Linked DNA regions of Homo sapiens: regions 1, 3 and 4 are each linked to region 2. The links come from fine-mapping of genetic effects on gene expression. A gene starts in region 2. Each other region holds a variant in brackets. All regions are shown on one strand. Distances are between the middles of the regions.

Region 1 (2,760 bases), 35 kb after region 2:
CTCAGGTCTATGGCAACTCTCCTGTTCTGTCATAAGCAAGGCTTCAGGGGTCTTGATAATCACAACATCCCATAAAATGCAGAACTAGTCCATTATATGGATAATATGTTGAGCATGTGACATTTCTAGGAGTTCAGTGGCCTGAGGCATGTTGGTTATCTCCTTCAAATGAAAACAAATTGCTGCATCATGTACTCCTATGCTAGGAAAGAGTTAAAAAAAAATACTTGACGGGTGTTTTAGGAGGTAATATACAGCACATTTTACCATGCTGCCCTGGCCCATTTACGAAGGAATTTGTAAGTCTGCCGGTTTTGAGTGGGGCCCAGAGCAAGAGAAGGGTTGCAGCAAATTCAGACTGTTGTGCAAGATGTTCTGTCATATATGGCACATATGCCTGAAGTGTCCAAGGCAGATAGAGATACTGTATGGAGCCTTCAACCAGCCCTGAAAGGAGAATCACAGTGCAGACCCCTGGCGGTTTGCAGCAAATCCATGTTATCTTTTGCAAATAACTTTTCTCTCTTTGAAAAATAGCTCTTCTTACTGGGTCCTAGCTAAAAACTGGACATTTGATTTTGGGACCTGATCATGAACTGGGTGTGCACCCCTCTTCCCCCTCTGGCTCTTAGGACCACCATCGCAGGAGGGGGAGGCACCCCCCACGAGGCAGGGACTGAGAGCCAGCCCCTCATCACCCCCTGGCTTAGGACCCCCATTGCGGATCCTAAGAACCTTAGGACCCATCTGGAGGACTGTGGGTATTAGGTGTCCAAGAAAAAAGCTCAAATCTGCCGACGGCAGCTACCTTACTTCGGATTTACTCTCCGACAGGGGTCCGAACGCAGCCCGGGAACAGAAAGAAAGCAGGTCATTTGCAATCTACCGGAGCCTAAGGGCAGAAGGCAGGTGAGGGAATTCTTAGGGGCTGTGGGGTTTTGTAGACTGTGCATCCCAAACTTTGCAGTATTAGCCAAGCCTTTGTATGAGGTCACAAAGGGGACGGGGACCGGGAACCTTTGGAATGGGGATCCCAACAACAGCAAGTCTTTCATGAGTTAAAGGAAAAACTTCTGGCAGCCCCAGCCCTGGGGCTACCCGATCTGACAAAGCCTTTTCCATTGAATGCGTCAGATAGAGAAAAGATGGCAGCTGGACTTTTAACCGAAACTCTGGGGCCCTGGATGAGGCCGGTGGCCTACGTCTCTAAACAACTAGAGAGGGTTTCTAAAGGATGGCCCCTCATGTTTGAGGGCCGTGGCATCAACTGCCCTGATAGTACAAGAAGCAAATAAGCTGACTCTTGGGCAAAACCTGAACATAAAGGCCGCCCATTTTGGGTTGGATGACAGCCAACCCCTCTTCCCCCCCTGCCTTAGGACCCCCATCGCGGATCCTAAGATCCTTAGGACCCACCTGGAGGACTGTGGGTATTAGGTCTCCAAGAAGAAAGCTCCAATCTGCCGACGGCAGGTACCTTACTTGGGAGTTACTATCC[G/C]ACAGGGGTCCGAACGCAGCCCGGGAACAGAAAGAAAGCAGGTCATTTGCAATCTACCGGAGCCTAAGGGCAGAAGGCAGGTGAGGGAATTCTCAGGGGCTGTGGGGTTTTATAGACTGTGCATCCCAAACTTTGCAGTGTTAGCCAAGCCTTTGTATGAGGTCACAAAGGGGGCGGGGACCGGGAACCTTTGGAATGGGGATCCCAAGAACAGAAAGTCTTTCAGGAGTTAAAGGAAAAACTTCTGGCAGCCCCAGCCCTGGGGCTACCCGATCTGGCAAAGGCTTTTCCATTGTATGCGTTAGAGAGAGAAAAGATGGCAGCTGGACTTTTAACCCAAACTGTGGGGCCCTGGCTGAGGCCGGTGGCCTACGTCTCTGAACAACTAGACAGGGTTTCTGAAGGATGGCTCCCCTGTTTGAGGGCCTTGGCAGCAACTGCCCTGCTAGTACAAGAAGCAAATAAGCTGACTCTTGGGCAAAACCTGAACATAAAGGCTCCCCATTTTGTGGTGGCTGAGAGTCAGCCCCTTTTCCCCCGCTGGCTCTTGGGACCCCCATCGCAGGGGCGATGACACCCTCTGCGAGGCACGGACTGAGAGCCAGCCTCTCTTCCGCCCCAGGCTCTTAGGACCCCCATCGCAGGGGGGGAGGCAACCCCCGCGAGGCGGAGACTCAGAGCCAGCCCCTCTTCCCCCTCTGGCTCTTAGGACCACCATCGCAGGAGGGGGAGGCACCCCCCACGAGGCAGGGACTCAGAGGCAGCCCCTCTTCCGCCCCCGGCTCTTAGGACCCCCATCGCAGAGGGGGAGGCACCCCCCACGAGGCGGGGACTGAGAGCCAGCCCCACTTCCCCCTCTGGCTCTTAGGACACCCATCGCAGGGGGGGAGACACCCCCAACGAGGCAGGGACTGAGAGCCAGCCCCTCTTCCCCCCTGGCTCTCAGGGCCCCCATCACAGGGGGGGAGGCACCCCCCGCGAGGCGGGGACTGAGAGCCAGCCCCTCATCCCCCCCGGCTCTCAGGACCCCCATCGCAGGGGAGGGAGGCACCCCCCACGAGGCAGGGACTGAGAGCCAGCCCCTCTTCCCCCTCTGGCTCTTAGGACCACCATCGCAGGAGGGGGAGGCACCCCCCACGAGGCAGGGACTCAGAGGCAGCCCCTGTTCCGCCCCCGGCTCTTAGGACCCCCATCGCAGCGGGGGAGGCACCCCCCACGAGGCGGGGACTGAGAGCCAGCCCCTCTTCTCCCCCTGGCTCTTA
Region 2 (2,603 bases):
ATTAGCCGGACGTGGTGATGGGCACCTGTAATCCCAGCTACTCGGGAGGCTGAGGCAGCAGAATCACTTGAACCTGGGAGGCGGAGGTTGCAGTGAGCTGAGATGGTGCCATTGCACTCCAGCCTGGGCAACAAGAGTGAGGCTCTGTCTAAAAACAAAACAAAACAAAAATATACCTGGGTATGCTTGAACACAAACACTGCCATACCGTTAAAAATGTTATATATTAATATATAAATAAATATTTACATATATGTATATTAGATATATATGTAAAGATTTCTACTCATAGTACGGTTCTTTTAATTTTTTGTTCTGTTTGGACATTTTCTTTCTTTTTTTTTTTTTTTTTTTTTAAGAGGGAGTATCACTTTGTCGCCCAGGCTGGAGTGCAGTGGCGCGATCTTGGCTCACTGCAACCTCCGCCTCCCGGGTTCAAGCGATTCTCCTGTTTCAGCCTCCCGAGTGGCTGGGATTACAGGCACCCGCCACCAGGTCTGGCTTTTTTTTTTTTTTTTTTTTTTTTTTTTTTTTTTTTTTTTTTTTGAGACGAAGTCTCGCTTTGTTGCCCAGGCTGGAGTGCAGTGGTACGCTCTCTGCTCACTGCAATCTCCGCCTCCCAGGTTCAAGCGATTCTTCTGCCTCAGCCACCCAAGTAGCTGGGATTATAGCGCCCGCCGCTATGCCCGGCTAATCTGTATATTTTCAAGCTAAAAGCTGGGGTATAAAAAAATAAGGGCAAGTTTACTTCCATCCAACTGTGAAGGTTCACGGGGGCACCGTGAGAAGGTTGCCCCCTGCGAAGGTTGCTTTTCCACGGTTCTCGATGCGTTCCCCAAATTTCTCTTCCACCTCCCAGTCGATATCGGAGGCCACATCAGGTGTCACCGAGTCCCGGGCAGCTCCCTCAGGCAGCGGCAGGGGAAGATCCTGAGGGGCACTTGGGACGGGCCCCGCCCCTCCGTGTCCCCATCTGGGGCTGTCAGGGGTGTGGCTAGTGCTGGCAGAAACCAATGGGAGCTGAGGAGGTCGCGTGTTTGCGCGGACGGGGCGGGGCGGCGCGGGGCTGCGTGCAGGCTCGTGGGTCTGCCCCGCCCGCGACGGCATTTTTTCCTTTTCTCCAGCGGCCTCAGGTTCTTGTTACAACTGAGTCCGGGTTGGAGGAGGTGTGGGGCCGCTGCCGCCAGGTAAGTCCTGGCCCGTGCCTCCTCCTGCCGGCCCCGCTTTCTCTGCGGCTCCTGGAACCCGGGCCTGGGGTAAGGTTGGGCTGCGATTTCCGAGGAGCCTCCTTTGCAACCGGGCGTGCTCGGGGCTGCCTGTGCTCTCCACTTCGCAGGCCGGGCCGGGCTCGGCGGGGCGCGAGGTTCCGGGGACTGGGGACAGGGCTCTGCTTCTCGGGCTGCTGCCTCCTTGGGTCGGGCCGGTGCCGCGGGGCCCCCATCGCTGTTGGCGTGGGGTGATTCCTGTTCCAGGGTCATTCAGATCCGAGTGCGAAGCCCGTCCTGGCATCTCCGCGTCTGCTAACGAGCCCCGGGCTTGCAACCCTGCTTGTGCGTCCCTCCCACTCGTGCGTTCATTCAAACGGCAGCCTGAGCGCCCGCGAGCTTCGCACTGTGGGAGAGGGCACACCACATTCGGAATCGCTCGTGGCACACAGGCTGGGAGGAACTTGCCTGGAAAGTTAATGTACCTCTGGGTTTTGAAGTCTTTCTAGGTGCACTTTCATGTAAAGCAGTTGCAGTGATTAGCATTTTTGTTCTGCGCAAGAGTAGCAAACAATGTTGGCACTGCCCTGCGGATTCGGCTTGCGGTGCTACTTGGGTAGTGAGAAAGTTGAAAGGCATGAATCTTGCTTTTGGCTTTGCCGTTGCGAAGCTTTGTGACCGCGGGCTCAGTTAATTAACGTGAAACGAGATGATAATTTCGAAGATTTCTTTTAAACCCGGCTTTTTGTAAGTCTGTGATGAGCTTAGTTTTCCTTCTGCACCTTTAAAAAGAATAGGAAATAGGAAAAGTTCATGAAAGGGCATTATTGAAAGGGCAGTCGGTCCAGCAAGGAACAATAAATGTATGAGAGCACATTAAAGGCTGTGCAATTACAGTTTTAAGACTTAAGACTAAAAAGGGAACAGGAAGTAAAACTGAAAGAACTTACCAAGAATTAAATAAGAGAAACGGCTGGGAGCGGTGGCTCAGGCCTGTAATCCCAGCACTTTGGGAGGCCGAGGCGGGCGGATCACCTGAGGTCAGGAGTTCGAGACCAGCCTGGCCAACATGGAGAAACTCCGTCTCTACTAAAAATACAAAATTAGCCGGGCGTGGTGACGGATGTCTAATTCTAGCTACTCGGGAGGTTGAGACAGGAGAATCGCTTGAATCCAGGAGACGGAGGTTGCAGTGAGCCGAGATCATGCTATTGTACTCCAGCCTGGGCAATAAGAACAAAACTCCGCCTCTAAATAAATAAATAAGAGAAACTTGGAAAGCGTTCAAAAGTACGAACAGCTAGTATTATATTTAATTACCTCCCTTTACAGCTGTACACATGAGGTCAGGTGGGTGAAAATAAATACTAAGCAACCATGTAAGAGAAAATGTAGACA
Region 3 (2,500 bases), 59 kb before region 2:
CGGTGGCTCACGCCTGTAATCTCAGCACTTTCGGAGGCCGAGGCGAGCGGATCACAAGGTCAGGAGATAGAGACCATCCTGGCTAACACGGTGAAACCCCGTCTCTACTAAAAATACAAAAAATAAGCCGGGCGCCTGTAGTCCCAGTTACTCAAGAGGCTGAGGCGGGAGAATGGCATGAACCCGGGAGGCAGAGCTTGCAGTGAGCCGAGATCACGCCACTGCACTCCAGTTTGGGTGACAGAGCGAGACTCCGTCTCAAAAAAAAAAAAAGGCCATTTCAGATGTCTTAAGGATTGAAAAAAACAAACAAAAAACTGACCATTTTCACAGTCAAATTAAGGAAGAGTATTAAACATACAATAGGTAAAAAATGAATATTTCTTCCTAACAGGCTAATGCCTACTTGCTATAATCGTTTACAAAATTTGAGTAGGTAACATAGTGCTTTGGGCAAATATCAATATTAACGTTATCTAATAAGAACTGTGAGGCTATAACTCAAAAATAATATTACAGAGTGGTTTAAGAATATGGACTGTGGGGCCGGGAATGGTAGCTCACGCCTGTAATCCTAGCACTTTGGGAGGGCAAGGCAGGCAGATCACGAGGTCAGGAGATTGAGATCATCCTGGCTAACAAGGTGAAACTCCACCTCCACTAAAAATACAAAAAATTAGCCTGGCGTGGTGGTGGCCGCCTGTAGTCCCAGCTACTCAGGAGGCTGAGACAGGAGAATGGCGTGAACCCAGGAGGTGGAGCTTGCAGTGAGCCAAGATTGCCCACTGCACTGCAGCCTGGGCAACAGAGTGAGACTCCATCTCAAAAAAAAAAAAAAGAGAATATGGACTCTGGTATCAGCTAGCCCTGGATCTGAATTCTGGCCTGAAAAATATCTATTATTTAAAAGGGGGATGCGGGGAGTTGACCTTAAACAAGTATGAAGAAACTTTTGGGGTGATGATAGAAATGTTTTATATCTCAATTATAGTTGTTAGTTACATACATAGGTATATACACTTTTCAAAACTCATTGAGCTGACACTTAAAATGAATACATTTTATTGTACATAAATTATAAGTCAGCATATTAGTTTTTTTAATTTTAAAGAGAGAACAGGTACGAGTTTCATCCAGAGGACTTTTTTTAAGCAGGCCAAACAAGTTCACAGATGTGGTGCAAGACTACCTTCAAGTGAACCTGAGAACACTGAATCTCAAGTAAGATTCAATGTCAAGGGTATACAG[G/A]CTTGCCATGTACCTTGGCTATCATTTGCTGAGCATTTACTGTGTACTTGCTACACAACGAATTTACATGCATTATCGTATTTAACGCTCACAAAAATCCTGTGAAATAATATATAATTATCCCTGTTTTATATATTAGGAAACTAAAGATCTAAGAAGCTAAGTAATTTGCTTAAGCTCACAAAGATGCTAAATGATGGAGCTGACTTTCAGGTGCAGGTCAGCCTAGCTCAGGAACTGTAATTCTTCATCGGTTTGTAGAACTGCCTCTCTCAACTTACTATATATGTAATCCAGTTCCAACACATGTACTTTATGTTTTATTTGGTCAATGCCTCAACTTTGACTCTTAATAGGAAAAGAAAGAGGAGACAAGGAAAGTGGCAGAAGAAACTACTGTAAGTTTAGGTTTCTAATTAGGAATGAACAAAAACCAAGAAAAAATTACACATGCTAAATTACTGAAAAATAACTACAAATGTTAATATAAAAAGAATATTTGGGTTTTTTAAAAAAGGACTACCTAGCAACAAGTGAGATGGAGGGGTACCCATGCACACACTGAGGGAACAGGTTAACAGAAGACAGACATTGGGGGAAGTCAAAAGTGCATAAGACATTAAAACCTCAATAATCTATCAACGTCCAAACATGGAATCTCATGTTTTTTTACCTATATCATAACTATAATTGGGCAATAGATTCATTTAAAACACGTAAACAGCCACAACTAATGCAAAATCAAGAATGTTCTAGAAAGACTTAATGTTAATTATGGTGACAAATGTTCAGAACTTTTAATTAGGACTTTATTAGCCTTGTCTTCAGACATCTGAAATAATCAAACATCCTTAGAAAAGATACTGCAATTCACCTGCTGTGCGGTTTCAATTCTTTCTTCTTCCATTCCTAAGGAAGTGAAGCCCTTCAAGAGAATGTCTTCTGTAGATTCAGGCACTACTGAAGTCAGTTCAATGGGCAGTGACTGGGATGTTAAACTGCACAAGTCTTCAATTGGAAGCTTGAAAAAAGAGAGTCACAAAGATATTTAAGTGACTTGAAAATTCTCTGAACTTAACTCAAGATTGGGTTTCCATCTCAGTTGTTTTGAAAGAGAAAGAAATATTTTCCATTAAATCACATTAAGTTAATAAATACTATATAGTACTAACATTTTAGGCTCTATATTAAATGCTCATCTCAAAATATAAACATGACACTGATGTCCCACCATTAGTAAGCTTTTTTTTTT
Region 4 (2,760 bases), 21 kb after region 2:
CAGGGGGTACATGTGCAGGTGTGTTACATAGGCACATGCGTAGTGGTGGAGATTGGGCTTCTAATGTACCCATTACCCAAATAGTGAGCATTACACCAGACAGATAATTTTTCAACTCTAGCCTCTCCCCTTTAGGAGTCCCCAGTGTCTGTTACTTCTATCTTTATGTCCGTGTGTACCCATTGTTTAGCTCCCACTTAAAAATGAGAACATGTGGTTTTTGATCTTCTGTTTCTGCGTTAGTTTGCTCAGGATAATGGCCTCCAGCTCCATCCATGTTGCTGCAAAGAACGTGATTTCTTTTTTATGGCTACAGGGGCCACTTTTGTGGTTCCTGTTTTCCAACATGACACTAGCACATTTTATTCTTCAGGTGTTGCCTTAATGAAGCAAAGACACTTATCGTATTCATCCACCTGACATCTTGGGAAATAGTGGTACTCTGAATGATATCTCTACCACTATTGCTTCTTTATTTGTGACCTGTTCAGGAGCCCACATGGCACGGAAGCAACAGACCGTAATTGGAATTAAATCTAATTTTTTCCTCACTCAACAGTGTTTATCTCCTTTGTGTGGAGTTCATTCAATCCTTCGTGTGGGGTTGTTGGGCATGGAGCCTTAGTCTTCCACCCACACAAGCCTCTAAAGAGCAAAGATTTCTTAGGCAGTCCTTCCAAACAGGATTTTATTTTTAAGAAAAATAAATCAGTCTGGCCACTAATTATTATTATTATTTTTTGAGATGGAGTCTCGCTTTGTCGCCCAGGCTGGAGTGCAGTGGCGTGATCTTGGCTCACTGCAAGCTCCGCCTCCCGGGTTCATGCCATTCTCCTGCCTCAGCCTCCCGAGTAGCTGGGACTACAGGCGCCTGCCACCATGCCCGGCTAATTTTTTTTTTGTATTTTTAGTAGAGACAGGGTTTCACTGCATTAGCCAGGATGGTCTTGATCTCCTGACCTGGTGATCCACCCGCCTCGGCCTCCCAAAGTGCTGGGATTAAAGGCGTGAGCCACCGCGCCTGGCCTGGCCACTAATTATTAATGCATTTGGCATAATTAGAAAGTTGGAAGTTAACTTTTTTTTCTTCTTTTAACAGACATGGAAGAATGAAGGGTTTTTTGCTCTCTATAAAGGCTTTTGGCCAAATTGGTTGAGACTTGGTCCTTGGAATATCATTGTATCCTTTTCTGTTGCAATAGATCTGAAAAAAGATACAGCTAAAGAATACTATTTGTATAAACTCTCATGTTATTAATTATAATTTAGAAGTAGGTTCTGATTATTTTGAGTTCCTCTGATGCTAAGAAGTCACTACTTAGTTTCTTTTTTAGGAAGTGTAAAGTCTCCGTGCTAGACACTGAATCTTGCTTTGATGGTGGTATTATTCAAAAGTAGTGATACTACTAAAAAGGTTTAGTTAGACTCTGTTCTAGAAGCTGAGGGTATTTA[C/T]GATTTCAGAGAGAGAGAGAGGAGGATTGGCTTTATAGCCCTAGCCACCTTGGGAAGGATGTGGTTGGCAACAGTGTCTTAGAATGCTTATCTTAGAAAGTGCCTGAAGATAAACAGGAATTAGCTCCGGAATTGTTTGGCAGGCCAGCACGCTTCCTATGTGCCACAGTGGGAGGCAGGAAAGGAAAGGCAGTTAACTTTTTTTTTGTTTTTGAGACTGAGTCTTTACTCTGTCGCCCAGGCTGGAGTACAGTGGCGTGATCTCGGGTCACTGCCACCTCCGCCTCCTGGGTTCTAGCAATTCTCTTGCCTTGGCCTCCTGAGTAGTTGGGATTACAGGCACATAAAACCACGCCTGGCTAATTTTTGTGTTTTTAGTAGAGATGGGGTTTCACCATGTCAGCCAGGCTGGTCTCAAACTCCTGACCTCAAGTGACCTGCCCCTTGGCCTCCCAAAGTGCTGGGATTACAGGCGTGAGCCACCGCGCCCGTGAGGCAGTTAATTAGACACTGAAGGGCAGAGTGATGAAGCAGGAATGCTGGCTTTTGCTGTCCTCTTGTTGCTCTTCATCAGCTCCTGCCTCCCAAGGAAGGATGCATAGTGGAAGCCTTTGAGGAGAGCTTCCCAGGGCTTGCTAACTCTCTCTCTCTCTCTCTCTCTCAAAAGCTTACAGTGCTGGAAAGTTTTTCCACCACAGCAAAGCCACAAAAGCTTATCAGCGTAGATGCCATCTCAGAAGAGGCTGATACCAGGGGATTTACATATCTCAGCTGTGATCTTTCTGCTCCAAGCTGACCTTGGAAGATAGTTTGATGTGGTTAAGGGTGGAACCCCTTTTATTTAATCGTGTCCATAGCGTGGGTCTGCCTGTACCTATTTGTTATTAAGTGTGCCATTTGTAAGTCTGTTGTTATGCACTGGAGTTGTGAAGATGGCATTTTCTGTGTCATCCTTAACCCATAACCACAGTTCTTTGTGACATACGAGCAGTTGAAGAAATTGGATTTGTGACAAGCCAAGGCTGCATGAGACATCTTTCTGAAAATGGTAACTTCTGAAACAGCAAAGCTTCCTGTGTTTCACTCTGCTTCTCACTGCTTGGCTCATCACAGATTCTGGGATGTGAGCAACAGATGAAGACTGGGTTAGTTGAGATTGCTGTGTGTTGGCATTGGATGCTCTTCATCAAACGTTTAATGGCATAAACTAACATCCAAACACTAGTCTTTACCACTGAAGTGCCCTTCAACATCAAAGATAATATGTGAAATGCATGTTTCTTGCTAAAGAAAACTTGCAAGAAAATC

Which allele goes with the higher level. Positions count from the first base shown, and alleles are read on the strand shown. Sizes are in standard deviations (SD) of each study's normalised expression. Not every link is listed here.
With allele C in place of G in region 1, the expression in tibial nerve of the gene that starts at base 1,114 in region 2 is higher (small effect, 0.30 SD a copy in GTEx).
With allele A in place of G in region 3, the expression in monocytes after LPS of the gene that starts at base 1,114 in region 2 is higher (large effect, 1.1 SD a copy in Fairfax 2014).

The links. PIP is the estimated chance that this variant, and not a neighbour inherited with it, causes the effect.
Region 1: its variant is the best candidate, but not a certain one, in a credible set for the expression of SLC25A30 in tibial nerve (GTEx, PIP 0.56).
Region 3: its variant is the best candidate, but not a certain one, in a credible set for the expression of SLC25A30 in monocytes after LPS (Fairfax 2014, PIP 0.79).
Region 4: its variant is the best candidate, but not a certain one, in a credible set for the expression of SLC25A30 in whole blood (INTERVAL, PIP 0.52).

What each region holds. Positions count from the first base shown.
Region 1 is chr13:45,381,892-45,384,651 of GRCh38, reverse strand. TPT1-AS1 (TPT1 antisense RNA 1) reads right to left here. Exons shown (of 11, transcript NR_024458.1): 9 at 1,417-1,561. Among named protein-coding and RNA genes, the nearest start is that of SLC25A30-AS1, 35 kb to the left of the region's middle. The variant G/C (reference allele first, on the strand shown) is at 1,499.
Region 2 is chr13:45,416,884-45,419,486 of GRCh38, reverse strand. It overlaps SLC25A30 (solute carrier family 25 member 30), which reads left to right and starts at 1,114. Exons shown (of 10, transcript NM_001010875.4): 1 at 1,114-1,187. It overlaps SLC25A30-AS1 (SLC25A30 antisense RNA 1), which reads right to left and starts at 1,325. Exons shown (of 2, transcript NR_047031.1): 1 at 749-1,325. RefSeq lists enhancers at 710-899, 1,710-1,759 and silencers at 1,010-1,109, 1,150-1,479.
Region 3 is chr13:45,475,970-45,478,469 of GRCh38, reverse strand. COG3 (component of oligomeric golgi complex 3) reads right to left here. Exons shown (of 23, transcript NM_031431.4): 2 at 2,123-2,269. Among named protein-coding and RNA genes, the nearest start is that of COG3, 12 kb to the right of the region's middle. The variant G/A (reference allele first, on the strand shown) is at 1,249.
Region 4 is chr13:45,395,678-45,398,437 of GRCh38, reverse strand. It overlaps SLC25A30 (solute carrier family 25 member 30), which reads left to right. Exons shown (of 10, transcript NM_001010875.4): 9 at 1,100-1,180; 10 at 2,423-2,760. The coding sequence ends at 2,464. Among named protein-coding and RNA genes, the nearest start is that of SLC25A30-AS1, 21 kb to the left of the region's middle. The variant C/T (reference allele first, on the strand shown) is at 1,453.